Regions from separate parts of the Homo sapiens genome. Here region 1 is linked to region 2. The links come from fine-mapping of genetic effects on gene expression. A gene starts in region 2. The other region holds a variant in brackets. All regions are shown on one strand. Distances are between the middles of the regions. Region 1 overlaps BAZ2B (bromodomain adjacent to zinc finger domain 2B). Region 2 holds the start of MARCHF7 (membrane associated ring-CH-type finger 7).

Evidence for each region.
Region 1: its variant is fine-mapped to the expression of MARCHF7 in whole blood (INTERVAL, PIP above 0.99). The same link has a PIP of 0.9 or more in fibroblasts.

What each region holds. Positions count from the first base shown.
Region 1 is chr2:159,567,095-159,583,810 of GRCh38, forward strand. The region is part of intron 1 of BAZ2B (bromodomain adjacent to zinc finger domain 2B); the gene reads right to left. Among named protein-coding and RNA genes, the nearest start is that of BAZ2B-AS1, 40 kb to the right of the region's middle. The variant C/T (reference allele first, on the strand shown) is at 9,214.
Region 2 is chr2:159,707,900-159,723,716 of GRCh38, forward strand. MARCHF7 (membrane associated ring-CH-type finger 7) reads left to right here and starts at 4,607. Exons shown (of 12, transcript NM_001282805.2): 1 at 4,607-4,707; 2 at 6,658-6,699; 3 at 7,782-7,867. It also overlaps a transcript of BAZ2B not described here. RefSeq lists silencers at 4,056-4,565, 5,086-5,205 and enhancers at 4,182-4,848, 4,616-4,895.

The DNA.
Region 1 (16,716 bases), 140 kb before region 2:
TAGCCAGGCATGGTGGTGTGCACCCGTAGTCCCAGCTACTCAGGAGGCTGACGCAGGAGAATCGCTTGAACCCGGGAAGCAGAGGTTGTAGTGAGCCGAGATCACACCACTGCACTCCAGCCTGGGCAACAGGCTCAAAGAAAAAAAGAAAAAAATTCATTCAACAAGACCCTGTAACCTTTGTTACTGGGGGGAACCTATAAATACATGGCTTTTAGTTTCCTGTTCATCAGTGCAGAGAAGAAATGGCTGTCATATACAGCTTTTATTTGTTTATATCACTTACAGTATTCATAAGGTAAAAATAAATCATTTTCTTGAAAGAAGCACAGTTTTTTTTACTGAGACCTAAGGTAAATCATTTTACTGAATTGTCAAAGATACTGCAGCAATAAATTCAATGTGTTTTGTAGGACTACTTCTTTAACATCTTTCAGAGTTCGTCAATGGCATATTGCTTGGGCATTTTAGCTAAAATAAGAGGGTTTGAGAATGTTGCACATTATTTTAATTCCAGGATGAGTTTGCAATATCCAGAGTAGCAGTATTCCACATGTTTCAGGTATTCCTCCCTAAAATATTACAATTTAAAAATCAGGCTGGGTGTGGTGGCTCACGCCTGTAATCATAGCACTTCAGGAGGCTGCAGCGGGCAGCTCACGAGGTCAAGAGATCGAGACCATCCTGACCAACATGGTGAAACCCCATCTCTACTAAAAATACAAAAATTAGCTGGGCATGGTGGCACGCATCTGTAGTCCCAGCTACTCGGGAGGCTGAGGCAGGAGAATCGCTTGAACCTGGGAGGCGGAGGTTGCCGTGAGCCAAGATTGTGCCACTGCACTCCAGCCTGGGGAAAGAGTGAGATTCCGTCTCAAAAAACTAAAAATAAATAAACATAAAAATCACAATAAATTTTTTTGAGATAAAACTCACCATTTTAATCTCTGGAAAGTGCACAATTCAGTGGTTTCAGTACATTCACAATGTTGTGGAACCATAACCACTATCTAATTCCGGAACATTTTATCATTCCCAAAAGAAACAACATATCAATTAAGCAGTCACTCTCCATTCCTTGGTCTGTCTCTGGTGAATTCTCTTCCTCCTCACCCATCAGATGTATTGCCTAGCTAATGAACAGCTGATGTCCATAGAAAATCATATTGTTAACATTCAACAAAAACTTGAAATTGTCAAATAATCAGAAAAAGGTAGATATTAAAGCAGCATGCAGCCTTTCAACAAAAACTATGAAAATCAATAGATTATAGCTTGAAAAAGAAAAAGCATGTAATTTTTTCATCATGACTGGATTAAGGCATGCAACAAAAAAATTATCAGATGAATCAACTGCTGAAAATGATTAAATTTGTACTTATATGTAATTTAACTATAAATTATTTAAATGAGTTCTTAAGTTCTCATTCATGAGAAAGGAGTTCATGCAGACTGAAAAGTTAAAAAAAAAAAAGCTCTTTTATTTTGGAACTTTAAAAGTAATACTAGTTTTATTCTCTTTCAACAGTGTTAGCTAAGATGGTTGCCTGGATTGACAGTGCCTGAATTACTCTGGACTGAACGGGCAATATGTTTCTTTAAAGTTATGGGAATAGAAGATACTGATACATGCTCAAACTAATTAATCAGATTCAATTAGTAGCTAAAGTGAAAATAACACTTCTGAGTTTCCTAATTGTGATTCTTAAGAGCTGAATTTTCAACAATAATACTGGGAGAAGAGGACAAGGTCATGAAAAGTTGTCAAACTTATATCACCTGAATATCTAAATTTGATTAGGCATAAATTGTAATTCACTACTATCTTAGTACATGAGTTTTATTATACTATTTACAAGTTTTCCCTCATATTAGGGTTTTCGTGACACTAGATTACTTGAAATGATCTTTTTTTTCTACTTATTGATGCACTGGCAGCATTTACTAAATAACAGTTAATAGATGTGATCCATTCCATAACAAATTATGCCTTGACTTACAATTTCAACATATATCTCTATTATAAATGAAACATAAGCATTACATATTTACACTACTCAGCGATGTTCTCAAAACAACCAAAAAAGATTTAAATGAAAAATAGATTATTGTTCTCAAACTGCTAGTGAATGAAACAAGCATAAAAGATAGAATTAATCAAAGAGAATGGCTACCCACAGTCTCTGAAAAAATTATGACATGAGCTATTCAAGATGAAACAATGATTGTTTGGGGAGCAATTCAAAGAATATCAACTTTTGCAACACGTGCAGATTCTGTTCTTCCTTTCCTTATATCTAGGCAAGACAGGCAAAAAATTTTTAATAAAAATAAGAAACAAATTTAATGCTAAACTTCTGTAATTACCCAACTCCCCAGCAAGTTTTCTAATATTAAGCAGAAAAAGTATAAAAAGATACAAATATAATATTTGCATTTTTTTGAGAGTTGGTAGATTTAGGATTTTACAAAGTAACATATAATAAAAGATATTTAAACTTTAAAAATGTACTTTTTAGATTCAAAACTCAAAAATGATTTCACTTTTCTAACATTTTTCTTGTCATAGTGTTTCAAAAATGTAGCCAGATGCGGTAGCACACACCTGTAATCCCAGCACCTTAGGAGGCTGAGGTGATAGGAATGCTTGAGCCCAGGAGTTTGAGACAGCAGTGAGCTATGACCACCCCAGTGCACTCCAGCCTGGGTGACAGAGCAAGAGCCTGTCTCATAAAAAAAAAAGTACATAAATGAAAATTAGGTAATTTTCAGCAGTTAATTCACCTGTGAGATCATTTTTATTGTTGTCTACCTTAATTCAAGTAAGCCAGGTCAATAGATTAAAATACAAAAAAAATCCATGATGAAATAAGTCTGTGCACAGTCTCTGATACATAGTACGTTTTCAATATACATGTGTTAAACTAAGTTGTATATATTATCTATGCCTCACCTTCCTCTGAGGTACAATACCAGTGTAAGGAGAATAAAGATTCTTATCTATGGTTTAAAACTTAAAACTTAGAATGTTCTTACTTAGAAACCAAATTCACTTTAGAAAACAGAATTTCATTAAAGTTTTTTTTTGTTTTTTTTGTTTTTTTTCTGGAGACAGACTCTCGCTCTGTGGCCCAGGCTGGAGTGCAGTGGCGCAATTTCAGCTCACTGCAATCTCCACCTCCTGGGTTCAAGAGATTCTCTTGCCTCAGCCTCCCGAGCAGTTGGGACTACAGGCGCACGCCACCATGCCTGGCTAATTTTTGTATTTTTAGTAGAGACAAGGTTTCACTGTTGGCCAGGCTGGTCTCAAACTCCTGACCTCGTGATCCGCCCGCCTCGGCCTCCCAAAGTGCTGGGATTACAGGCGTAAGCCACTGCGCCCGGCCTCCTTACAGTATTCTTAATGGGATTTCACAATATAGAAGAAGACAGGATATAAAAAATGTAAGTAATACTCAATTAGAAAATCTTTCCTATATATCACCCTGAGAAGATAGTGACCTCACCTTGACTGACCCTTTCCTGTCATTTATATCCCAGCACATTTTTCACCCTTTCTCTGTCTCTGTCTTATTTCCACTTGTCAAGCAAAAAGCAACCTTCTCCAGAAATACTTTTTAACCTCTGACCTCTCCCTTCCAACTCTAGTTGTGCTTCATAGCACTCCCTGCAGGTTGGATAAGTGTGGTAATCCTAATATTCCATAAGATGCTGTGCATATCTTTATCATTGAATAATTTATCCCCTATTGTTAGCATTTTCTTTTTTTGTTTTTTTGAGATGGAGACTCACTCTGCTGCCCAGGCTGGAGTGCAGTGGCACAATCTCAGCTCACTGCAACCTCCTCCTCCTGGGTTCAAGAGATTTTCCTGCCTCAGACTCCCAAGTAGCTGGGGTTACAGGTGCCTGCCACCATGCCTGGCTAATTTTTGTATTTTTAATAGAAACGAAGTTTTGCCATGTTGACCAGGCTGGTCTTGAACTCCTGACTGCAAGTGAACCGCCCGCCTTGGCCTACCAAAGTGCTGGGATTATAGGCACGAGCCACCACGCTCAGCCAGGATTTTCTTTTTATCAATTTGTTTTCTGTCTTCAAATTTCATAAAAGCCAGGATTATGTCTGATACTGATGGGGTTCAGGAAATGCTCTCCCAAAAAACATGACACTGTGACATACTGAATATTTTAAGCTAAAGAAATCTGAGAAACAGCATGTGTGGGAAGCTTAGCCATGAATCTAGGATGTGTAGATATATTTTCTTCCCTATAATATATAGTAGATGCTGTGGTGTAGTAATAAATATTTGATCTTTACCCCTAGTTACTGGTACAGAAACCTAAAAACCCTGGAATTTACTGTCTCTTATGCTAAACAGATGATTTATGGGGTGGGGAGAGCTAGACAGCATCATCATGGGTCTGCTCTGCAGAAAAACCAACCACATGATTAGGGAGTTAGAGCTTTCAGGCCTACTCCCTGACATCCAGAGAGGGGAAAGGGGCTGAACACTGAGTTCAATTGCTAATGGCCAATTGTCTTAGTCCCTATTCTGCTGCTATAACAGAATGGCACAGAATGGGTAGTTTATAAATAATAGCAGTTTATTTTGCTCACAGTTCTGGAGGCTGGGAAGTCCAAGAGCATGGCACTGGCATCTTGTGACGGCCTCCATGCTCCATCATAACAGGATGGAAGGGCAAGGGAGTGCCCGAGATAAAGAGAGGATATCTGTCAAATCCATCTCTTGATCAGGAGCCTACTCCCAAGATAACAAACCCACTTCCCAGGTAAGTGCATTAATCCCTTCATAAGGGTGGAGCCCTTGTGGCCTAATCACATCTTCAAGGCTGCACCTCTTAATACTGTTACAATGGCAACATCAAGTTTCAACATGATTTTTGGAAGGGACATTCAAACCACAGCACCAGTTTTCATCAAGCATGCCTATGTAATTAAACCCCCATAAAAACCACTAAATTACGGGATTTGTAGAGTTTCCAAGTTGGTAAACAGATCCATGTGCTGAGAGGGTAGCACACTCTGACTCCAAGGGGACAGAGACTCCTATGCTCAGGATCCTATTACACATTGCCTTATATACCTTACCAACTGGATGCTCATTTGTTATCTGTTATAATAAACTGATAAGTATAGCACTTTCCTGAGCTCAATGAGTCTCTAGCAAATAACTGAAACTGAAGGGGGTTGTGGGAACCTCTGATTAGTTTCAGCCTGTCAGAACTGTGAGTAACTGAGAGACCCTACTGGTGGCTGGCATCTGAAGTGGGGACAGTATTATGGGACTGAGACCTTAAACTGTGGGGTCTACAATAACTTTGAACAGTTACTGTCAGAATGGAATTAAATTGTTGAGACAAAGTTGGTGCTGAATAATTGGAGAATTTGTTTTTGGAAAAGCACACACAATACTCAATACATTTATTTTGGATAAATCAATAAATAAGTGAAAGTGAACAATAAATAGAAGATATATTAAACTACTCATATATTTTATTATTATTATGCATAGGCATGTTTGTAACACTTTTTAGAGCTAGATTTTTGCTGTTCTTGCAATTCATTTGTATTGAATTTTTCCATATAGATAGTGCTTGCTTTTATATTTTACAATTATTTTAACATAAGTACATGCTTTTAAACTATTATTTTCAAGTTTAAAAACACTTAAGCCAACATCCATTACCAAAACCAAAACAAAAACAAAAATCAGATTCTCCTTTATGAAACACAGAGATTAGCATGAATGTACCTGCCTCTCTCTTAATATTATTTATCCTAAGCAACATGAGAATGAGGATTGTGTTTAATTGGAATTTTCTTTTCCAGAGATTAACAGGGTGCTTAGAAGATGAGAAGTGCTCACTACCTGCTGGAAAATAAAAAGAAATATTATGAGGGCAAAATATCAAAAAGAGGACCAGAAAGTGGGAAACGAGATAGTTTTCTAGAAAACTGAAAAAGGACTAAAAAATTAGGGGTGGGGTATAACTGAATTGGGCCAAAGATTATAAGTGACCTTGAAGAAAGTAATTTCAGATAAAATAGCATGAAAAGTTAAATTTTGGATTATTTTGGCCAGGATTGCCAAAATAATCTTGAAAAGGAAGAATAAAGTTGGAAGGCTCACACTTTCTGATTTCAATTTACTACAAAGCTATAGTAATCAAAGCAGAGTAGCATGGCTTAATGCTAGACCTTTAGATCAACAGAATAGAATTGAGATTCAAGAAACAAACCCTTGCTTACATGTACAGTCAAATGATATTTGACAAGGGTGCCAAAACAATTCAATGGGGAAAGAATATCTTTTCAACAAAAGGTGCTGGAACAACTGAATATCCACATGTAAAAGAAGGAAACTGGACCCCTACCTCACACCATACACAAAAAGGAACTAAGAATGAATCAATGACCCAAACGTAAGAGGTAAAAACGTAAAATTCCTGGAAGAAAATAAAGGCGTAAATCTTCTTGACCTTGGATTAGGCAATGTTTACTTAGATATGGCATCAAAAGCACAAGCAATCAAAGGAAAAATAGATAACGTGGACTTTTGTCCTTCAAAGGACACTATCAAGAAAGTGAAAAGACAACCTACAGAATGGAAGAAAATATTTGTATATCATATATCTGAAGACAGTTGTATCCAAAATATATTTTTAAAAAACACTTATAACTACTCAATAATTAAAAACAACACAGCCAGGCACAGGTGGCTCACATCCATAATCCTAGCACTTTGGGAGGACAAGGTAGGTAGATCGCTTGAGCCCAAGAGTTCAAGACCAGCCTGGGCAACATGGCAAAATCCCTTACCTACAAAAAAATATAAAAATTGGCTGGGTGTGTTGGCATGTGCCCATAGTCCCAGCTACTTGGGTGGCTGAGGGGGAGGATCCCTAGAGCCTGGGAGGTTGAGCCTACAGTGAGCCATGATGTGCCACTGCACTCTACCCAGGATGACACAGTGAGACCCAGACCCTGACAGATGGAGAGACTGACAGACACACACACACACACACACATACACACACACACACACACACACACACACACAGCACAATTTTAAAATGGGCAAAGGGTTTGAATAGATATTTTATCAAAAGAAGATACACAAATGGCCAATAAGCATAAGAAAAGATGCTCAATATCATTAGTCATCAGAGAAATGCAAATCAAAACCACGAGATGGCACTTCACACTCACTAGAATGGCTAAAAAACAAACAAACAAACAAAACAAAACAAAAAAAACCTAATAAGTGTTTGTAAGGATGTGGGGAAACTGGAACCCTTACACAATGCCAGTGGGATTGCAAAACATTGCAGCCACTTTAGAAAACATTTTGGCAGTTTCTCAATAAGTTAAACAGAGTTATGTCACCCAGCAATTCCATTCCTAGTTATATGCACAAGAGAACTACAAACATATGTCCATAAAAAAACCTACACGTATGTAGGTTTTGTACATGAATGTTCACAGCAACATTATTCATAATTATTCAAGTGTTCATCAAATAATAAATGGATAAACAAAATATGACACACTCATACAATGAAATATTATTTGGTAAGAAAATGAAATGAAGGCTGGGCGCGGTGGCTCACGCCTGTAATCCCGGCACTTTGGGAGGCTGAGGCAGGTGGATGACGAGGTCAAAAATTCGAGATCAGCCTAACCCCATCTCTATTAAAAATACAAAAATTAGCTGGGCATGGTGGCATGCGCCTGTAATCCCAGCTACTCAAGAAGCTGAGGCAGGAGAATCGCTTGAATCCAGGAGGCGGAGGCTGCAGTGAGCCAAGATCCTACCACTGCATTCCAGCCTGGGTAACACAGCAAGACTCCATCTCAAAAAAAAAAGAAAAGAAAAGAAAGAAAAAAGAAAATAAAATGAAGTTGTAATACATGCTGCAACAAGGATGAACTTGGAAAGCATTATGTTACATGACAGAAGCCAGTCACAAAAAACCATATATTGTATAATTCCACTTACATGCAATGTCCAGCGTAGGCAAATCCATAGAGAGAGAAAGTAGGATAGTGGGTAATGGGAGTTGGGGGAACAGGAAATGGAGAATGACTCCACAGGGAGTCCTATGCTTCTATGCTCAGGACCCTTTTGGACCTTCCCTCATTCATACCAGGGTTACTCCAGCCTGGGCGACAGAGCAACACTCTGCCTCCCAAAGAAAAAAAACCATGCAGAAAGGGAGAGTAGATAGCCTGAAAGAGGTTAAAATATACTGGATAAAAAATAGAAGTGAAGTCAATTCAACAGGCATGTATCAAGGGCTTACCATCTTCTAGACACAGAGTTATAAAGAGTTATAATATTAGGGATATAAAGGTAAATGGAGGAATTCATTAAGTTGAGAAGGCTTAACAAACCTTTGCCTCCAAAGAAGTCAACACCCAAATGATCCAAATGAAATTACAACTGCTTTTAAGGTTGGACCACAGTATTTGCCACTACTTAATTATTGAACCTCTCTAAGATTCCTAACCTGTAAAGTGAGGAATGGAGACCCTAGATCACTCACTTCTAAAATTTGAAGAGTCAAAACAATGTTGGTAGACTAGAAATTGGAATAATAGGTCAAAATCCACAAAAAGCATGATTATATGTACTCCATTAACATGATTATAAAACTCTTGAAGTGATACTAGTATGTACTCAAGAATATCATTTTCAAAAGAAAAAAATTTTAACATGATTGAATATGAAATCTCCAAAAATACATTCTTAGAAAATCTAAGAATCTATATGTTTTCCTTCATTCATTTTAGACTACATGAAGTTTGGAGGACAGAAAGCTCAATTCTACAAACAGCAGCCTAAAATGCTAGGACCAAAATTCACATACATTAGTAAAATATCTTTCCTTTAAGATTTAGAAACTTAAAGAATTTCTGAGAAACAAACAGCTTCACAACATTACTAAGAATATAAATTAGCTCCACAATGTTATTTAAAAGGTCAACTAAACCTAGCTGCTCTTACTAAGAATCAGTAAGGGAAATCTGAATTTGATTCCTAGATTTACTATACACTAGCTTTGTAATCTTGGGCAAGTTACTGAGTCACATCTCAGTTTCCTCAACTGTAAGTAGAACAAATATACCCACCTAAAAGAATTCTTGTGAGGATTACACAAATAAATATATGGAAAGCTCTAACAGCATAACAT[C/T]GATGTGGTCAAAAGATGTTGACAGATAATTTACAGAAAAAAATAAAAGAGATCAGTCTGGTCAACAAAGTGAGACCCCGTCTTTACAAAAAATAAAAACGAACAAATAAATAAGAAAGAAATAAAGCTGACCAATACATGAAAATAAACTAAATCTTGCAGAGAAATGCAAATTTGAACAAATTTGAGTTATCATCATGCACCAATCAGATTATCAAAGGTTTAAAAAAAAAAAAAAAAGAACCCAGAATTGGTAGTTTTAGAGTGAGTGTAAATTGATACCACCACTCTGAAAGGCAGTTCAGTAACAAGTATAAAAGTTTTGGCCAGGCACGGTGGCTCACACCTGTAATCCCAGTACTTTGGGAGGCTGAGGCAGGTGGATCACGAGGTCGGGAGTTCGAGACCAGCCTGGCTAACATGGTGAAACCCCGTCTCTACTAAAAATACAAAAAATTAGCCGGGCATGGTGGCAAATGCCTGTAGTCCCAGCTACTTGGGAGGCTGAGGCAGGAGAATCGCTTGAACCCAGGAGGCAGAGGTTGCGGTGAGCCGAGATCACGCCACTGCACTCCAGCCTGGGCTACAGAGTGAGACTGTGTCTCAAAAAAAAAAAAAAAAAAAAAAGGAAAGTGTGGCCAGGCACGGTGGCTCACACCTGTATTCTCAGCCCTTTGGGAGAACAAGGTTGGAAGACTACTTGAGCCCAGGAGTTCAAGAGCAGCCTAGGCAACACAGTGAGACCCTCATTTTTCCAAAAAATTTTAAAAATTAGTTGGGTGCAGTGGTGTATGCCTCTAGTCCCAGCTACTCGGAAGGCTGAGGCAGGAGGATCACTTGAGCCCAGGGGGTCAAGGCTGCAGTGAGCCATGATGGCACCACTGCACTCCATCCTAGGTGACAGAGTGAGATCCTATCTCTAAAACAAATTTACTTAAAAAATAACATGTTCCAAAACATATTATTGATTAAAAAGGAAAATTACAAACCAGTAGAGTATGACCTTATTTTTATAAATGTGTGTGTATATTTACAGGGAAGAGCATTTACCACGTTAAAGAGGTTAGCTCCAAATAGTAGAATTTTAAGTGACTTAACTGTCTTTAAAAAATTATTTCTGCATTAGTTACACTTTCTGTAAGTATGCATTACCTTTATAATCAGAAAAAAACTATTTTGATTTCTTTAAATAAATTTGAAAAACAAAGAACTAAAAGAGGATACCAGTTCTTGGTCCAATGATTGTTTTCACTACACAAAATGATCTGCTTGATCCAAGCAAATGTTCAGTTAGGGAGGAAAAATACTTTAAATGTGCCCTAAGATTAGAGAAACCTGACAGCCTAGGGAAAGATGAAAAATAATAACAATTATGTGACAAGACTCAAGAATATCTCTATCTTAAAACGTATCTGCTTCAGTTTAGATTGACCAAAGTCCTTTTATACACCACAAGAAATAAAAGTAGGTACCTTAATGGGAAGGAGAAAGGCTAAAGAAATAGCTAAGAAACTTACTAAACACACTGAAACTTATAATACTGCTTTTCAAGCTATTCTTAAAGTAATTAAAAGAATTATTCAACATGAGAAAAGAACTAGTTCATTTATGTTAGAGGACTTAAGTAATTTAAAGAAAGCTACATCAAATTGTCTGAAACCTCACTTGTTTTCACTTGTCATTAATTACCTACCAAGATATCACCTGCTGACAAAAAGAAAAACCTAAAGACATAGAAACTTTAACTTTCCCTAGTATGAACACATGAAAACTGTTCTTTTCCCTTATAAAAACTCTAGTGCTTAGCTTTCTTATTTGAATTCAGGAAAGAGTACTAAATGAAGACAAAAATTCAAAGCAAAAGGAACAACACTGAACAACAGAGTCAAGAAACAGACTGTGGTTTCAATTTTCTACTAACTCTTAATTTTATAAGTAAAACAAGAAGATTGACAAGAGCTTCAAATACTTTTAATGGAGGATCAGTGATACAATACACTCTTTGAAAAATTCACAGTTCATAAAAAAAAGAAAAGTTCTATGGTAAAATAAGTTCAGAAAATTGTGCACACCCTTTGCCCTTTTTGGAGATCCATAATGCAGAACAGAAAATACTTCTGTATAACCCAATGTTTCCCAAAATGAGAGACAAACAAAATGTCCCTCAACAAAGGAATGATTTAAAAATGCTTACATTAGACAGATCAACGAGACAAAAAGTTAACAAGGATATCCAGGAATTGAACTCAGCTCTGCACCAAGCAGACCTAATAGACATCTACAGAACTCTCCACCCCAAATCAACAGAATATACATTCTTCTCAGCAACACATCGCACTTATTCCAAAATTGACCACACAGTTGGAAGTAAAGCACTCCTCAGCAAATGTAAAAGAACAGAAATTTTAACAACTGTCTCTAGGACCACAGTGCAATCAAACTAGGAATCAGGATTAAGAAACTCACTCAAAACCGCTTAACTACATGGAAACCGAACAACCTGCTCCTCAATGACTACTGGGTACATAACGAGATGAAGGCAGAAATAAAGATGTTCTTTGAAACCAATGAGAACAAAGACACAACATACCACCACCTCTGGGACACATTTAAAGCAGTGTGTAGAGGGAAATTTATAGCACTAAATGCCCATGAGAAAGCAGGAAAGATCTAAAATTGACACCCTAACGTCACAATTAAAAGAACTACATAAGCAACAGCAAACAAATTCAAAAGCTAGCAGAAGACAACAAATAACTAAGATCAGAGCAGAACTGAAGGAGACAGAGACACAAAAAAACCCTTCAAAAAATCAATGAATCCAGCAGCTGGTTTTTTGAAAACATCAACAAAACTGATAGATCGCTAGCAAGACTAATAAAGAAGAAAAGAGAGAAGAATCAAATAGACGCAATAAAAAAATGACAAACGGGGTATCACCACCGATCCCCCAGAAATACAAACTACCATCAGAGAATACTATAAACACCTCTACGCAAATAAACAAGAAAATCTAGAAGAAATGGATAAATTCCTGGACACATACACCCTCCCAAGACTAAACCAGGAAGAAGTTGAATCCCTGAATAGATCAATAACAAGCTCTGAAATTGAGGCAATAATTAATAGCCTACCAACGAAAACAAGTCCAGGACCAGATGGATTCACAGCCGAATTCTACCAGCGGTACAAAGAGGAGCTGGTACCATTCCTTCTGAAACTATTCCAATCAATAGAAAAAGAGGGAATCCTCCCTAACTCATTTTAATGCCAACATCATCCTGATACCAAAGCCTGGCAGAGACACAACAAAAAAAAGATAATTTTAGACCAATATCCCTGATGAACATCGATGCAAAAATCCTCAATAAAATACTGGCAAACTGAATCCAGCAGCAAAAGCTTATCCAACACGATCACATTGGCTTCATCCCTGGGATGCAAGGCTGGTTCAACATACACAAATCAATAAATGTAATACACCATATAAACAGAACCAAAGACAAAAACCACATCATTATCTCAATAGATGCAGAAAAGGCCTTCAACAAAATTTAACAGCCCTTCATGCTAAAACCTCTCAATAAACTAGGTATTGATGGGATGTATCTCAAAATAATAAGAGATATTTATGACAAACCCACAGCCAATATCATACTGAATGGGCAAAAACTGGAAGCATTCCCTTTGAAAACTGGCACAAGGCAGGGATGCCCTCTCTCACCACTCCTATTCAACATAGTGTTGGAAGTTCTGGCCAGGGCAATCAGGCAGGAGAAAGAAATAAAGGGTATTGAATAAGGAAAAGAGGAAGTCAAATTGTCCCTGTTTGCAGATGACATGATTTTTTATTTAGAAAACCCCATCGTCTCAGCCCAAAATCTCCTTAAGCTGATAAGCAACTTCAGTAAAGTCTCAGGATACAAAATCAATGTGCAAAAATCACAAGCATTCCTATATACCAATAATAGAGAAACAGCCAAATCATGAGTGAACTCCCATTCACAATTGCTTCAAAGAGAATAAAATACCTAGGAATCCAACTTACAAGGGATGTGAAGGACCTCTTCAAGGAGAACTACAAACCACGGCTCAACAAAATAAAGGATGACACAAACAAATAGAAGAACATTCCATGCTCATGGATAGGAAGAACCAATATCGTGAAAATGGCCATACTGCCCAAGGTAATTTATAGATTCAATACCATCCCCATCAAGCTACCAATGACTTTCTTCACAGAACTGGAAAAAACTACTTTAAAGTTCATATGGAACCAAAAAAGAGCTCGCGTTGCCAAGACAATCCTAAGCCAAAAGAACAAAGCTGGAGGCATCACACTATCTGACTTCAAACTATACTGCAAGGCTACAGTAACCAAAACAGCATGGCTACAGTAACCAAAACAGACATAGAGACCAATGGAACAGAACAGAGGCCTCAGAAATAATACTACACATCTACAACCATCTGATCTTTGACAAACCTGAGAAAAACAAGCAATGGGGAAAGGATTCCCTATTTAATAAATGGTGTTGGGAAAACTGGCTAGCCATATGTAGAAAGCTGAAACTGGATCCCTTCCTCACACCTTATACAAAAATTAATTCAAGATGGATTAAAGACTTAAATGTCAGACCTAAAATCATAAAAATCCTAGAAGAAAACCTAGACAATACCATTCAGGACATAGGCATGGGCAAAGACTTCATGACTAAAACACCAAAAGCAATGGCAACAAAAGCCACAATTGACAAATGGGATCTAATTAAACTAAAGAGCTTCTGCACAGCAAAAGAAACTACCATCAGAGTGAACAGGCAACCTACAGAATGGGAGAAAATTTTTACGATCTACCCATCTGACAAAGGGCTAATATCCAGAATCTACAAAGAACTTAAACAAATTTACAAGAAAAAAAAAATCAAACCACCACGTCAAAAAGTGGACAAAGGATACGAACAGACACTTCTCAAAAGAAGACATTTATGCAGCCAACAGACACATGAAAAAATGCTCATCATCACTGGCCATCAGAGAAATGCAAATCAAAACCACTATGAGATACCATCTCATGCCAGTTAGAATGGCGATCATTAAAAAGTCAGGAAACAACAGGTGCTGGAGAGGATGTGGAGAAATAGGAACACTTTTACACTGTTGGTGGGACTGTAAACTAGTTCAACCATTGTGGAAGACAGTGTGGTGATTCCTCAAGGATCTAGAACTAGAAATACCATTTGACCCAGCTGTCCCATTACTAGGTATACACCCAAAGGATTATAAATCATGCTGCTATAAAGACACATGCACATGTATGTTTATTGCAGCACTATTCACAATAGCAAAGAATTGGAAACAACCCAAATGTCCATCAATGATAGACTGGATAAAGAAAATGTGGCACATATACACCATGGAATACTATGCAGCCATAAAAAAGGATGAGTTCATGTCATTTGTAGGGATATGGATGAAGCTGGAAACCATCATTCTGAGCAAACTATCACAAGGACAGAAAACCAAACACCGCATGTTCTCACTCATAGGTGCGAATTGAACAATGAGAACACTTGGACACAGAGTCAGGAACATCACACACTAGGGCCTGTCGGGTGGGGGGAGGGGGGAGGGATAGCATTAGGAGATATACCTAATGTAAATTACAAGTTAATGGGTGCAGCACACTAACGTGGCACATGTGTACATATGTAACAAACCTGCACGTTGTGCACATGTACCCTAGAACTTAAAGTATAAAAAAAATGCTTACACATCACTGTATAATCCTTTTAAAGAAAACGTATTTATATATATTCACATGGCAGACTTCTGTTGCATAGGTAGAATATATAATCAAACTGCAGAATGCATATTTAATTAGATTTTAAAAAATAAGTATATATATTCATGTGCATATTAAAAAGGTCTGAAAGAATGTACAGCAAACCATTTTAAAGTAGTTCTGGAAACTGCCATCAGCAGGGCCAAAGGGAATATATTTACTTTATGAATGGACAGATTTGAGTTTCTCCGGTAAGAATATATCGCTTTGTAATACAAATAAGTAGCCACCAGAAAACATAAATGCACTGGGTAAGTTCACATACTTTTTTTTTGAGACTCTGTAGCTCACGCTGGAGTGGTGTGCGATCACGGCTCACTGCAGCTTCAGCCTCCCAGGTTCAAGCTCAGCCTCCGGAGTAGCTGGGACAGCAGGCCAGCACTACAACGTCTAAATAATTTTTGTATTTTTTTTAAGAGATGGGGTCCCACTATGTTGCCCAGGCTGGTCTTGAACTCCTGGACTCCAGTGATCAGCCCACCTCAGCCTCCCAAAGTGCTGGGATTACAGGTGTAAGCCACTGGGCCTGGATGTTCATATTATTTAAAATAAATCTTTTCACAACAAAAATCTATTGGCTCTTTTATAAATATGAAATTTAACACATTTCTTCTAATACAATGTATCTCCAGGTTACTGAATTAAAGACTTCCTAAGATATTCACTGAAGCGTTACCTATAAAAATATACACTGGGAACACTTAAATGCTTATAATAATCAATAGTTAAGTAAATGACTAAATATCAACCCAAGAGAATTTTTCAATTTGCCTATTTTGTTTATGAATTGCCTACAGTTTTATAAGGATTTTGAAAGCTAACTCAACAAAAAATAATGTGTATAATTATATAGAATACATAGCAATACAAAATACTTATACATATAAGTAAAAAAAATTCCAATGCATATTTGTGTTATTTTACCTGTAAAAAATATGAAATATATTCTTTTTTCTTTTCTTTTTTTTTTTTTTTTGTTGAGACGGAGTCTCACTCCTGTTGCCCAGGCTGGAGTACAGTGGCGCGATCTCAGCTCACTGCAACCTCTGCCTCCCAGGTTCAAGTGATTCTTCTGCCTAAGCCTCCCAAGTAGCTGGGATTACAGGTGCCAGCCAGCACACCCAGCTAATTTTTGTATTTTTAGTAGAGACAGGGTTTCGCCATGTTGGCCAGGCTGATCTAGAGCTCCTGAGCTCAGGTGATCTGCCTGCCTCAGCCTCCCAAAGTGCTGGGATTACAGGTGTGAGCCACCACATCCAGCTATGAAATATATTCTTTCATAAATTGAGCAAACATCATGCAAGTCATGTATGTTTACCGCTTATGAAACAGACTGCAGGAGTCACAGCACTTGCCAATCAAGAAGCTTACAGTCAAGTGGAACAAACATAAGTAAATCAATTATTATAGTACAATGGCATTCATTCATTCCATAAAAACGTATGTAGTGCCTACTGTGTACCAGATATTGTCTAGATGCTACTCATTTGTGAACAAAAAGAAAAAAAAATTCTTGCCTTCTTCATGGGGAGAGACAGATAACAAAAATATAAATAAAAAAACATTTATAGCATATTTGAAGGCCATAAGTATATGGGGTGGAAATAAAGCAGAAAAAGAGAGAGTACAGGGCAGACGGTTTATTTTTGTTAGTGTTA
Region 2 (15,817 bases):
AGAATCACTTGAACCTGGGAGGTGGAGGTTGCAGTGAGCCGAGACTGAGCCACTGCATTCCAGCCTGGGAGACAAGAGTGAGACTCTGTCTCCAAAATAAATAAATAAAAAAAATAAAATATAGCTGTTAACTGGATGTGGTAGCTGATGCCTGTAATTCCAGTACTTTGGGAGGCCGGGGAGGGAGGATCACTTGAGGCTTGGAGTTTGGGACCAGCCTGGGCAGCAAAAAATTTAAAAACAACTAGCCCCACACTGTGGTGGCACACCTGTAGTCACAGCCACACAGGAGGCTGAGGCAGGAGGACAGCTTTAGCCTAGAAGCTTGAGGCTCCAGTGAGCTATGATGGTACCGCCGGGTACTCCAGCCTGGGAGATGGAATGAGGCCTCATGTACTTAAAAACATGAATAAAATGTATCTGCTTTTCTTAAGCATTCTATATATTTCAGGCAGTGTGCAAGGTTTGAATTCCAAGTGTTCCACAAATTGGGGATTATTCCTGGTGAGGCCAGATATTCTAGAGCAACTAAAAGCAGGAATGATCTTTCTAGAAGCAGTGAGATCTAGCCTGTAAGCTTAGATGTAAGAGAGGTTTCTCAGACAGGGTTTCAAGATGGTATTCTCTTTACGTGTTTTAATAACCTTTTATTTATTTATTTATTTATTTATTTATTTATTTCTTTATTTATTTATTTTGAGATAGGGTCTGTCACCCAGGCCTGAATGCAGTGGCATGATCCCCGCTCACTGCAAGCCTCAACCTCCTGGGCTCAAGCAATCCTCCTGCCTCAGCCTCCCAAGTAGCTGGGATTATAGGCATGCACCAATGCACAGGGCTAATTTTTAAAATTTTTTTGTATAGATGGGGCCTTGCTTTGTTGCCCACGCTGGTCTCAAGCATCCTCCTGACTCAGCCTCTCAAAGTCCTGGGATTATAGGCTTGAGCAACTACATCTGGCCTCTATATCCTTTTAAATACTGGCTTGGGGAATTGAAAGTTTTTGATGCTAATCCAGTAGAAGTCAACCAACAGAATTTTTTGGATGTTCATTTACTAAATATGGCAACTTTAAATAAAACTTGATGTGGGGAAAATAAAAATTTATAAAGGCACTAAATCGAGAGTTTATTATTTTTGTTATGAAAGGAATCCCTTACATCAAAGACTTAGAACAATGGACCTTTAAGTAATATATCCCTTAGAAGTAGGAGTCCTCATGACATTTTGGGCTGGATAAAAAAAGAAAAAAAAAAAGAAGCAGGGATCCTTGGCCAGGCGCGGTGGCTAACGCCTGTAATCCCAGCACACTGGGAGGCCGAGGCAGGCAGATCACCTGAAAAAATTGTTCTCAATCAGGTAGACAGTAGAATGATAGTTATCAGAGGCTGGGAAGAGTATGTGTGTGGTGGGGGTGGGGACAAAAAGAGGATGGTTAATGGGTACAAATATAAAGTTGGATAAAAGGAGTAAGTTCTAATGTTTGATAATAGAGTAGAATGACTATAGTTAACATCATATTGCATTATTTCAAAATAGCTAGAAGGGAAGACTTGAAATACTACCCACACAGAAGTCATAAATGTTCTAGATGATGGTTATCCTAAATACCTTGACTTGATCATTACACATTCTATGTATGTAACAAAATATCCCATGTATCCCATAAATATATACAAATATTATGTATCAATAAAAAATTATATGATTTGCAAAAAGCAAATGTAACCACATCTTTTCAATGTCCCACCATTTATGCAAAGTAAAGGATATCTCTACAACTACCCTTGCCAAAGAGAAGCTTTTTAGAAGATTAGGTTGTGGGATGAATAAAAGAGGGGAAAACAAGAACTTTGAAATTCAATATCTGAAAGAGCATTCTAAGCTATCAGGTGGAAGAAATGCTCAAAACATAAGAGTAAAGGGTTGAATGACCATGGGTAAATAACAGACAAGTTTATAAAATAAAAGGGGGAAAATTGGTTAATAGTCAATAAGATGCTAACTTAGAGAAGAAGCCAAGTTTAAAAATGAAAACTAAGGTGAGTGGTGAGGGCAAGTGGTGAACAAAGATATTTAGATACAGAAAGGTATGTCAGAGTCACTCATAAAGGATAAAAAGTAGCAAGGGAAGGTCAAGTGGGGGAACTCTGTGGATAAAAGGCAAGCACGGTGTCTAGATTGTCTGGAACAGTTTTGACTTCAAACACTTGCCTGTCAAATCACTTTGTGACGATTTTTAGTTAAGAAACTATGGTCATTTTCCATGACCATGTTTTACCTATTCACATCCATAATTCCTAGCAAAATGTCTTTTTTTTTTTTTTGAGATGGAGTTTCACTCTGTTGCCCAGGCTGGAGTGCAGTGGCATGATCTTGGCTCACTGCAACTTCTGCCTCCTGGGTTCAAGTGATTCTTCTGCCTCAGCCTCCCAAGTAGCAGGGACTACAGGCGCCTGCCACCACGCCCGGCTAATTTTTTGTACTTTTAGTAGAGACAGGGTTTCACTGTGTTAGCCAGGATGGTCTCGATCTCCTGACCTCGTGATCCACCCACCTTGGCCTCCCAAAGTGCTGGGATTACAGGCATGAGCCACGGCGCCCGGCTGCAAAATGTCTGCAGCATAGCAAAATCTCAATAATTATTTATCACTCATGATAATTACCTGAATACTAAAATCAGAGAGAGTACATTAAAAAGAAACACAACGAACCATTCTTAAATAATAAAAACATATTCATCAGTGGTCTTTATTTACTAGCACCAATAAAAAACTAGAAGCTCTGTTTAGCATAGGAAATTGGTGTCATACTCACTTTATAATATCATCAGTGCTGGGTGGGGACAAAGCCATAATCTGCCAAAATCTGCACCATCCTTGCCAGGTTTGGGAGTTCTGTAGAGTAGTTACCACTGCCAGGTCTGACTGCCATAGCTCAGGAAAAGGGTGCAGTCATTTCTCTTAGCATAATCTTGAGAAGATGTCTAAGAGACCTATGTAATATTAAGTCACAGAAAGAAACAATATTATTGGTGGTTTAGACATGGAATGTAATAGCTAACAATTACGGAATGCTTACTTGTTTCAGGAACTGACGTGTTATCTCATCTAAACAATGCTACAGAGCATGGGTACTGTTATTAACCCCGTTTTACAGGAAACCTAGGTTTAGCAAGGTTAAGGAATTGCTTGAGATAACAAAGGTAGTAAGAGGCAGGGGTGGAATTTGAAGCCATATAGTCTGGTTCTTCAGGGTGTATACATCCGTGTATCTATAACCACAATGCTGCAGGGGCACTCGAACAGGCTGGAAAAGAATTATTTTTCTTTAAAGGGCAAATTAATTTCCTCAAAAGTAATCTCTGTTCACTTTATCCCATACCAGATGCTTATTTTCATTTCATATCCTAAAAGTTAGATTGGCACTTACATGCCAACTTAAAATACCTTTAAGTCTTTAAAATTTATAGTATTTTAGAATTTATCATAGTGAAACATGTACAGTCTGTTAGTCCCCAAGACAATAAAATAAGGATGATAGTGACTGATACTCCATTCCCTTCCGATGTAATGACAAACACGTAGAAACACTGTGTTTCATTTATTGGAATTATTTGGATCCAAAGGATTGCTTTTAATACCTTAACAAAATAGGTCATTAAAAAAAATCAAGTGCCTTTCAGTATTCTTCCAAGTTTCAATAACTGATCTTTTCCATTAAAAAACTTTTGATTCATTATTCCAAATCAACATATCATCTAAATATTTACACATAGTTAGATGTAGCTTTTCCCTAACCTACTCCCTTTTATTTATTAGTACTCATTTACATCTTAGTTTGCCACATTTACAGTTCTTTGAAAGTTTCATCTAATATTCACCAGACCATTCACCTCACAATTTTCCTCCCTCTTTCTAAATAGGTGAATTTGTTTACTGCAAAATCGATGGCTACGCTATTAAAGGTTACTATCACGATTTTAAAAGACATGATCACCATCATTTACCAAGATTCTTACCACAAGGAAATGATCACAAGGTTGGACAAACAGGCTCCAACTCTTAAGGGAAAGGGCTTGCAGTTAGATCACACAGGGCGGGCAGGGAAGCAAGCGGGGAGGGGTAGGTCGGAAAAGGCAGTGCTTGATTCAATTCAACATTCACTGCGCCACTTACCAAGAGCCAGAAAAAGAAAAAAAAAAAAAAAAAAAGCCAACCAGCTGGGCGTTATTTCGAGCACGGGGCCCTGCAGGTGGGCCTGTGGGCGGGGACCCGGCGCCCGGGAGGGAAGGGGCTGGCTCAGAGACTATAGACGGGCGGGGACCGCCCCGGCCCGGGCCTCCAGCGCCCGGCGCCCGCACACTCGCCAGCCCAGCTGCCGGCACGCCGGCCAGCCAGCCGCTGCCGCTTACCAGTGGCGCCTCGCTGACTCCCCGGGGGCAGCTCTTCAACGGTTCCCGCAGTCAGAGCACCACCCCGCGGTGGGGTACCTCCAGCCCGCCCGCAGCTCTCGGTCCCCGCCGCGCCGCCACTCTCGCGAGAAGCCAGGAAGTCCGCGAAGTGGGGGGAGGAGGAGCAGGGAGGGGCACTTAACGGTGGTGGCTGGTTCTGCGCCGGATCCGGGAGAGGGGCGGGCGCCATTGTGCTTCGCTGCCGACTGCATTTCCTCAGTCACGGGCCTAGAACTCCAAGGAGAAAGGCGGCGGTGCGTGTTGCTGCGAGTGGGACGCGCACTGGTCGGTGCCGGCTCAGGAGCCGGGGTAATGAGCTGCGGAGCTAGTTCTTCTCCGTCTTGGGCGCTAGTTCGGGACCAGGCCGCGAGTGGGGGAGGGGAGGAAACGAAGAGGCCTGGGGACGCGGAGGCCGCTTCCTCTCAGGATGAGGTGGAGAAGCTTGGTCCGGGGCCACCGGGGCCAAGGGGCCACAGCGCAGGCCTCCCTTGCCAGGGGCCTTTGGTCGGGTGGTGGAGTTTGTGGCGGGTGCAGGGGACAGATTGTGTGTCTTCCTCAGGGACGTGTGGCGGGTGACGGGAAGAAGCCTGAGCCCTCCTTTGGCGCGGGGCGGCCTCCTCTTGGGCCGTGGGGCGGGGGGTCTTCGGAGCCCTGCGGGCCGCGGGTGTCGCGCGTGAGCTCGCCGGTGAGCGCGGGGCAAAGGCGGGCAGGGCTCCGGCTCGGCCAGCCCGGCCTCGAGTCGAAGTGACTTCGGTAGCCCCTTAGATTCGGCCAAGATTGTCTTATTGGTAACGTCAGTTTTTGAATATCGTGACGCCCTGAGAGTTATTTTTGTGTTGTGGTGAATTGTGGGTTCTGCAACTCGAAGTAGGTGATTGTATTAAAAATGGACCTGTTGGCCTAAGAAGTAAAAATATAGAAGGCGCCGGGAGTAGGAAACTCCCTCATTTTGGTGAAACTGCGTATTGAAGATGTGTGTCCACCCCCTCACCCCAAAATGCTGCACTTAATACTTTTTCTCAAGTACCAAAGTAAATATATTGGGAAAGTCTATCTGGGTAATAAATTCGTCACGACTAATGTTGTTTGTTACTATTAGTTAAATGTGTGAAAACTGAAATTTGGCGAGGTTTTCTCCCCCATTTTGTAGGATTGATTAGCTATTTTTCTGATTACATGTTATTTTAAATCTCCACCTTTCTGTCCAGAACCAAGATGTAGGATTAAAGATGAATTTTCGATTTAAAAATCCAATAGTATACAGTTATTAAGAAGGCACACATGTAGTGTAACTAGATCTTTTACTTGAGGTAGCAAAAAGTTTGTTTGAGAAATGAGGTCAGTATAATATTTTTATTTAACAGCTCTACAGCATTTTGGGAGACAGGACTGGTGCATGAGGCAGTAGCACCAGACTCAGAAGACCTGGGTTTGAGTCTTGATTTTTGCCATAGTTATTTAAGTTCACGAGATTGTCTCAGAAACATGGCAGTTAATTTCTAGAGAGGATTAAATTTGCTGAGGTGGTGTGTGAAGCAGTCACTAGGGGACATAATACTAGTCTTGGTTTTTTTCCAAGTTTAGTGCTGGGTCAGGTGTCTTGAATTAAGAATTCCTACTTATTCAAGTACAAATGATTTCTTTTTTCTGCCACCTGGAAGAGGGCTATTTTCCCAGATAAAGCACGAGGATGCCCAGGTTATGTTCTACATGAAGGTGTCAGGTAACGAACTTGGACACAAAAGTCATCCATGACTCTCATGTAGCCAATTTTTAGTCCGCTCCATACCCACCTTACACAACTCTTTTATCTGCTCTATGTTCAAGAATCGTCTACATTTTGACATTTTATTGTAGGAAAATAATTTTATAATGCAAAATCTGTCAAATATCTTAAAACTTTTTTAGATAATTTGTAATTTGTTGTAGTCAAATTACAAATTATGGAGAGCTTCACATTACAAGAATGAGCTTGACATGGCATCTGCCCTCCACAACTCACTGTTTAGTCATCAGACTAATGTATAAACAACTATTATTATCTTAATATGACTGTACAGTGGTTCTGTGGGAGCATAGGGGAGGGGTGCTTAATCTTGGAAATTTTACAGGATTTATTTATTTATTGCCTGAACTAAGATGTGAAGGCTCACTAGGACTTTGATAAAGAAACTGCAAAGTCATGATATTATGGTTTGTTTTAGGAATTCATGATTTGTTCCTGTAGCTGAAACATACATTGAATGGTAAGTTAGAGCCCGACATAAAAGACTTTCTGTACTGTACTAGAAAATTAGTGTCTGGGTGTGGTGGCTCACTCCTGTAATCCCGTCACTTTGGGAGGCCAAGGTGGGAGGATCGCTTAAGGCTGGGAGTTCAGCCAGGCCACAAAGACCCCATCTCTACGGGCATGGTGGTGCGGGTGTAGTGGTGCGCACTGCTACTACTAGCTACTTGGGCTGCTGAGGCAGAACGATCATTTTGAGCTCACGAGTTGCAGAGACTGCAGTGAGGTATGATAGAGCTCCACTGCACTCCAGCCTGCACCACAGAGTGAGACCCTGTCTCTAAAAAAATAAAAATAAAGTTAGTGCTCTATGCTGCGGAATGGAGAGCTATTGTGTTCCTTAACAAAATAAAAATAATTTTTAGATAATCTTTGCTGATACATCCTTCTGTTACCACAGATAATTAAGTGCCAGTAATAAAGAACAATGGGACATGAATGAATGAAATGCACAGCGTTGCATTAGACTTTACTTTTAAACAACAAATTAACTAATGAAGCTTTTAACTGTTAAATAAGTGAATCAACTGATCACATTAGAATGATTACAATTTAAAAAGAATCGGATTTTGAGTTCCTACTAAGATTACTTGAATTCACCAAAGCAGAATTCAATTGCAGTCAAAAAATTTATCTTAATATACAGCATTTGCTAATCATAGGATGAGCCAAAAAGTCTGAAGTTGGGGAGAATGAAATTATAATTTGAGAGTTTAGGTGGGGGGGGTAATAATTTTGTGTGTGTGAGTGTGTGACAGGGTCTCACTCTGTTTTTTAGGCTGCTGCAGCCGCAGTCTCCCAGACTCAAGCAGTTCTCCCACCTCAGCTTCCTGGGTAGCTGGGACTACAGGTGCGCGCCACCATGTCTGACTAATTTTTATATTTTTTTATAGAGACAGTTTCACCATGTTTCCCAGGCTGGTCTCCAACTCCTTAGCTCAAGGAATCCTCCCACCTCAGCCTCCCAAAGCGCTGTGATTACAGGCCTGAGTGTGAGTCACTGCATGCTGGGGTTTAATTTTCATTAATCTTAATTTTCAGCTTTCTGCCCTGGCATGAACTTACATGGTCAGAGCTGGTTTTTCCTGCCCTCAAATATATTTCTCTGACTCTACCGGTTAGACTAGGTAAGTTGAACACCTGGTTTTAAAATCACCTGCTGCTCTACACCCATTTTTGTCAACAGCTTAAAAAGAAGGCAAGTTTTGAACCTTAAAAGTAGTTATCTTTCCATTATGATCATTGTTCATTAGTGTGATGTTTCATACTTTGTAGAAAGAACCCTAAAATGGTTTCTACTTAAGATCGAAACTTGATGCTTAGAGATTAAATTCATTTCAAGGAGAACAGTTTGCCTTTTACAGTGGTGTAGTGTAGACTTAACATCATAGTCATATTTTCTCATGGGATGTTAAGCTTTTTTCTAATTTTTTAAGATTTGGGCATGTCATATTTTTGTGTTTTAAGTATTTGTCAGCTAAAAGTTAGTTAAGGGAGACTTTTTTTTAAGGCCCAAAATGTTGTATACTTTCAAAGTGATTCCCTCATTGACCCACCCTTAGCTTCCATGTCTCCATGTTTACTATGATTTCCCACTAAGGAAAAAAAAAATTTCCCCAGAAGCAGATTTTTTTTTTTAAGAAAAGGATATGCAAAGTATATGTAAATAATGAAATAGTAACTGCGTGTTTGTATTTCTGCAAGACTCTTGAAATATTGCATTGGGGCTGGGCATGGTGGCTCACTCCTGTAATCCCAGCGCTTTGGGAGGCCGAGACAGGCAGATTGCTTGAGCTCAGGAGTTCAAGACCATCCTGGGCAACATGATGAAACCCCGTCTCTACTAAAAAAAATACAACAATTAGCTGGGTATGGTGGTGCGTGCCTGTAGTCCAGGCTACTCAGGAGGCTGAGGTGGGAGGATCACTTGAACCCAGGAGGTCGAGGCTGCAGTGATTGCACCACTGCACTCTGGCCTGGGCAGCAGAGTGAGACCCTGTCTCCAAAAAAAAAAATGATAGATTACATTGGTATTTTGTGTGATTGCTCTGGCCTTTGTGCCATGAGTTTATCCTATAGTAGTGGTGTACTTTTAGTAATTCAGTACCTGTAATCTTCCCTGGATATTTAAGATAGTTCCCAGGTTAGACTCAGTTAAAATCAGAGTTTTCAGAGACTGCAGGCATAAGATAATGGTATGGTAACAGTAGAAAATAAGGATAAGTAATGAATCTTTGTTCTATGGCTGCATAACAAACCACCTCGGGACCTAGTGGATTAAAACAACTGTTCACTGTTTTTTACAGTTCTAGGTGCCTGTTGGGCAGTTCTACTGATTTTGCCCGGGGCTTACTCCTCATGTACCAGCATTCAGCTGGAGGATTTCCCTGGCTGGGAGATCCAAGATGGCATCACTCATGTTTGGCAGCTAGTGTTGGTGGACATATAGGCCTTACTCTTTGTGATCATTTATGACACAGGAATCTTGGGACAGTATTCTAAGAGAAGCTTGTAAGACCTCTTACAACCTTGAAAATCTTACAGTGTCACAGTCCATTCTCTTAGTCACACAAGACTGGGGTGGGGAAGTAAGACTGCCTCATCCTAGGCAGTGCAGCAACGTTGCATTACAAAGGGGGCTAATACTAGGATGGGGGACATTTGTAGCCATATTTTGTAATTTACCATAGGTTCTTTAGACCACTATAAGAATAGATAGCCTCAAAGATGTCATGCTTGGGATTGCTTTAAAATAATAGAGTGGGTGGTAAAATAGGTTAGGGAGGTTGAATGTGGATAATAGTTGAAGACTTGATTGGTACATGGAAGCTCATTATTGGCTGTACCTTTGTGTATGTTTAAAATTTTTCATGATAAAAACTTTAAGTCATACTCAGGTAATCTGAACTTCATTTTGTGAAGTATTTTAACTTTATCTTTCACTTAGTCTTTACTAGAGTTATTTTTGTGGTAAGTAGCTACTAAGGCTGTAAACCAGCAAATTAGAAAGGGAATTATTCTCCTTAGGACTTCTGTAATACAAGTTATTTTAAAAATGCCTTTTCCTCTGGCAAATAATTGTTGCCCTCAATTAACAAAGTACATTAAAGAATTTTTTTGAAAACTAAGTATAAAGAAGAAAAAACACATTAATAATACCATCACCCGAGATAACAGCAAAATAATAAAAATGGCTATTTCTTTCCAGTTGTTTAATGCATATACTTAATATAAGTAATCTTGTATAGGTTTCTTTACCCTGAAGTGAATATCCTGTATGTAAATCTGAATGACTTTGAAAGATGTTTTACTATGTGTTAAAGACAAATTTCAAATAATGAAAAAGCCAACAAAATTTCTACTGAGCTGTTTATATGAAAACCTTCATGCTGATGGTATTGGTTAATAATAGCTAGTATTTGCTGAACACATGCTGTGTGCCAGCAAACCTCACAATATACCTGTGAAGTTGATACTATCATTATCACCATTTTGTAGGTGAGAAAATTAAGCATTAGATTATACCTAGAGTCATACCCAAGCATACCAAGTGAGGGGCAGACTTTGAAGCTTGCACTCAGCTAGCGTATTTCTACAAATAGAAATTGGCTGATGTGCAAAAATTAGGCAAAGATTGACTTATTTCCTGCCTAGCCTAGCCTCAGTTTTCTATTTTGGAAAAAAATAGGAAATGAATTTTATTAATATATTAAATACATATTTATTAATACATTAACATACAGGAAAAGACTTTTAGGTGTGGGAGGTAGCATGTGTTAATAGGGCTGAGGCATTTTTGTTAGACTGGTTATTTTATGACTACTGTGTGACTCTTGACAGATACCTGATCAAGGCCATTATTGTAATAATGGGACACAGTGATCCGTAGCATAATGGAAGGGGATACATAATACTTGAGAAAAACCTTCATAAGCAGAATCAGAGAAAAACTTTTGGACATTGTACTGCTTTTAGGAGTTCACAGCTTTCCAAATTTGATAAACTAAAAATCCAAGCTCTACCTGGTAGGCAGCTTGTGGTTGTGGTCAGAGAAAGCTTTAATCATAAGTAGGGTAATTGGTAGAACTCCTTTCCTCCTAATGTTCTCTTAAACTGCCTGAAGTTTTTCAATTTACTTTTTCATAGTACCCCAAATTCTACTAGAGATAAGTTTGTGGGAAGAGTGCCAAATAGAAGGTACAGTATAAGTAGAAGGCAAGGAGGTAGCATATGTATCTGGAAAACAGTAAATAAATCAGTGTATGTAACTGAAAAATATACCGTCAGCCACACTGCTCTCCAAAACTGTATTTCCAGCGTTCTCCTGGACCTTCTGGGCACTTCTAATTGCTTATTATTATTATTTTCAGAAAGTGTCTCACTCTGATGCAGTGGCGCGATCTCCGCTCACCACAACCTTCACCTCCCCAGGCTCAGGCAATTCTCCTACCTCAGTTTCCGAGTAGCTGGGATTACAGGTGTGCACCACTACCGCCCGGCTAAATCTTTTTTTGTATTTTTAGTAAAGACGAGGTTTCACCGTGTTGGCCAGGCTGGTCTGCTTATTCTTTTTTAAAAATATTTTTTGTAGAGACGGGGTGTCAATATGTTACCCAGGCTGGTCTTGAACTCCTCGCCTCAAGCAATCCTGCCCTGGCCTCCCAAAGTGCTGGAAGCCACCACAACCAGCCAGACAGCTCATTTTTCAAAACCAACTAATCTTGGTGTGCTTCCTTGACCACCCCCCACCACCACCCCGCCCACTCCCAATCCCCTGAAAGAAAAACAGTAAAATGTTTGTTCTTCATCAGTATTATAATTGCCTCCCTTCCCAGTTATTAGGTAAATCCTTTCTGACTTGAAGTATGTATTGAATCTGACTTTTATCCATTTCCACGACTTTGGGTCCTCATCCTTGGAGCCATGTCTCTTCCCGTAATGATCCTAATACTAATTTAGTTTGAGGGGATTTTTTTCTAGCTTATTTCCTCCTTCCCCAGTTTTTCAATTTTACCTAGTCTATTGTTAAACCCATCAGTTTGCTTGTTTGTTGACATTGGGGCTATGTCTTGGTCTGGTTCTGCCATTTTATCTCTTGGTAATGGGGTGATTTTTTTTCCTTGCATTTTTGTGTATCATACAAGTTTTGACTAAATGCTAAACTAAAAACAGAACAGATTAGAGACTGAGATAAACAATATTTATGCATTGATATGGGCATATTCTTCTGTCGGGGCATTAGTATGGTGGGTTGACTTTGTTTTGTCTGTAGTCGAGATGGATATGACCTTTATTATTGCTTTATTTACCTTCAGAGTATTCCAGTAGTGGACTGCCGCTGCCTAGTGCTTAGTATGAGGCCAAGAATGTTGGAGCAGTGTCCCGCCCTCCCCCCTCCAGCCCCAAGATGGAGTCTTGCTCTGTTGCCCAGGCTGGGGTGCAGTGGTGCCATCTCGGCTCACTGCAACCTCCGCCTCCTGGATTCAAGCGATTCTCCTTCCTCAGCCTCCCAGGGAGCTAGGATTACAGGAACGCAACACCATGCCCCGCTAATTTTTGTATTCTTAGTAGAGATGGGGTTTCACCATGTTGGCCAGCCTGGTCTTGAACTCATGACCTCGTGATCCTCCTGCCTTGGCCTCCCAAAGTGCTGGGATTACAGGCATGAGCCACTGCACCCAGCCATGGAGGATTTCTGAAGAGTCTAGGCCAATTATCTTACATAATGTCTTCCATTTTGGGTGTCTCATCCTCATGGTGGTATTTATATTATGGCTATTGTATATTTGTTAAAAAGTGCTCTTTTTGCAGTTTCCTGTTCCTTGCCTGTATTTTTCAAGCTTCTCTTTATTCAAACACACTAAGCATAGTTTTATAATCTGCCTGAAATGCTTGATTTGATGTTTTTGCTACCCTATTTTTTTTCTCTCATCTTGTGTCTCAAAGACCTTGTTTGTAGTATCTTATTTTGCTGTATACTTAGTTATCCCTTGTTCGTTATACTTGAAAAAATACTTGTAGAAATAATTTGAAAGTTAGCATGAAGGTATATTCCTCTAGCAAGATTTATGTTGGCTTCTGCCATGTTCCTGGTAGATTACTAAATTGGGACCACCTTAAACCAAATTCAGGATTTGAACTTCCATTTACCAAGCAGGCAACATTAACCTGGGCTGCAAATCTGCACAAGAGCTGGTTTACTTCTATTAATAGCTTAACTCTTTCCGCAACCGCTCAAGACAGAGTCTTGCTCTATTGCTCAGGCTGGGGTACAGTGGCATGATCTCGGCTCTCTGCAACCTCTGCCTCCCGGATTCAAGCAATTCTCCTGCCTTAGTCTCCGGATTAGCTGAGATTACAGGCGCGAGCCACCACACACGGCTATTTTTTTTTTTTTTTCTGTATTTTTAGTAGAGGCGGTTTCGCCATGTTGGCCAGGCTGGTCTTGAACTCCTGACTTTGTGATTCACCCTCCTCGGCTTTCCAAGGTGCTGGTATTACAGGCATGAGCCACCACACTGGGCCTAATACCTTAACTCTTAATCTGAGGTTGTGGTCTTTTGGAGTCCACCTTATTGTGAGGAGGTGGCCTGTTAAGATTCCTTACCTTGTTTATGTCCTGGATATCTTCAGAGTTTCTTAGGATGCCCAGAGGAATGGAGTCACTCATTTAAAAAAGCAGTTCATTTTTTTCATAGCTAAAGCAAGCCCACAGGTTTGTGAGATATAGACAGACTACATAAATTGTTGAATTGGTATGAATACAGGTTTTTTACTCTTGTTGCTGTGTCAGCCACTATTAAAATGCCTTAAGGTGAAGACATACTTAACAGAGTAAAAGTATGTCTTATTAGGTAAACTAGCAGCTGCATTATCAGCTTCAGAGAATCTTCATCCAGAAACTTCATCTCAGAAGTCAAAAAGTTCAATAAGTGAAAAATCTCAAATACCAATCGTACGATTTTTGTCTGTGTGTGTGTGGCTTTGTAGCTAATTAGATTCCTTACACACTCAATACCAGTTCTGGAGAATAGAAAGTGTAGCCTCTTGTCAGTGCCTCCCCTTCCTCAGTCATAGACTTGTTGATGAGGAACATGAGGATAAAATTCTAGTGGATCTATCATGACTGGGACTTCAGTGAGGCATACTTCACTGCCCTATCTGACTCCACTTATAAAACACAAATTCAAAGATAGAATTTCAGGATGTCAGTTGCAAAACTTTTAATGAAGCTTGGAGCCCACACCTACAAAATCAGCCCTGGTGATAAGTTTCTTATCACCAAACAGGAAGATAGCCTAACTGTCCAGCTCTGAAATGAAATCTGAATTTTAAAAAGCATGACATAGTGACAGAAGGAAAAGACCATTTCATTGACCATTGAGGAAAGATTGTACATGTGAACTTTTTTTGCGCTATTTGTTTTTAAGTCTTGGTTTAAAACATTAAGCTTCAAATGCCTCTTTCCAGTAGTCTGCTCTTGCTTATACCTTTTTCTTTTTTCTTTTTTTGTTTTTGAGACAGTCTTTCTCTGTTGCCCAGGCTGGTGTGCAGTGGCCCAGTGTTAGCTCACTGCAACCTCCACCTCCCGGGCTTCAAGTGATTCTTGTGCCTCAGCCTCCTGAGTAGCTGGGATCACAGGCGCGTGCCACCACACCTGGCTAATTTTTGTATTTATAGTAGAGAGAGGGTTTCACTGTGTTGGCCAGGCTGGTCTCGAACTCCTGGCCTCAAGTGATCCACCTCGGCCTCCCAAAGTGCAGAGATTACAGCTGTAAGCCACCATGCCCAGCCTATACCTTTTCCTTTGTAGCACTTAGAACTATTGAAGTTATGTGATTATTTGTGTAGTTTGTTCCATATTAGACTACAATTTCTTTACAGGCACCATCTCAGAACGTTTAGTGTTGTCCCCCTACCTCATTCGCTTGTTAAGTATTAATTACTGTGCTTAGTGCATGAGTATCCAAAAAACTTGGTTAAATGAATGAATGGACTTGAAAAGATGTCTCTTAGAACCTTCTAAGTGATTCGATAGAAGTTTTTCAAGGACTGCACATTTTTGTTTTTCACTATATTTTGTGCTTTTGACCTACAACTTACGCAACCAAATTACATAAGTTTTCATGTAACACCTACATTGTCAAAATTCAATCAATTTATGTAGAGGAGTTGCCAAAAATAGTTCCATACAATATCAAATTATCTCTCTCAAAGGACTCTGCCTCTTTGCCTTCTCCCAAGGAGGTTTGTTTTAAGCAGATTTCCTACTAGGTTAGTTTAGTTCTGCAAGTAAGAACTGGGTGTAAATGTAGTCAGAGTAAACTATAAGAGGTATTATTAGGAAACATTATTGTTGTTATAGAACTTAATATTGACGTATGTCTTTTAAAAAGCATTTTGTTTCCCAAAAATCCTCTGATTGCAAATACAGTCCCTTTAGTGTCTTCATAGCTGCCTTGATAAAATACCACATCTGCTACTTGTTAAATTGTTCATGGGCTTTTGCATTGTCACTGTTTAACCATTAATATTCTTTTCTCTAATGAATGCCTTTAAAAAATTTCCAGTTCAGAATTTACCTCTTTTTAATGAAATATTTTGTATGGACTTACCAAATACGTATATAGTTTGTAAAAAGCCGATGGTAGAAAAGATTTCTAAGTTAGGTGACCATATGCTTTATCATCCAAATGAGGCCACTTTTAAGAGACAGCGTAGGTACTATTAATAATTATTCTGGGATAATAAGCATAAATTAGAATTTTTCAGCACATAAACTGGGACTGTTCTGGGCAAGTGGGGAAATATGGTCATCCTGCTTCTAAGGAAAAGAGCAGTCCTTTTCCTTACCCTTTACCCCATCTCTAGTCCCACTTTGCAAAGGCAGTGCCCCTCTGCTATTTAGCTATTTCTTTTAGGACTTACATACTTTCATTTTTCTAAACAGTGTGCTTATACTGTTATTTCATGGTTTTTCATTGTTTCCTACCATTCTTATTTCCACTGCCCACTTCCATCTCACAATATGTAGCAAATTGATTCAGTAGTCTATATTTACATTATTAAGACTATGT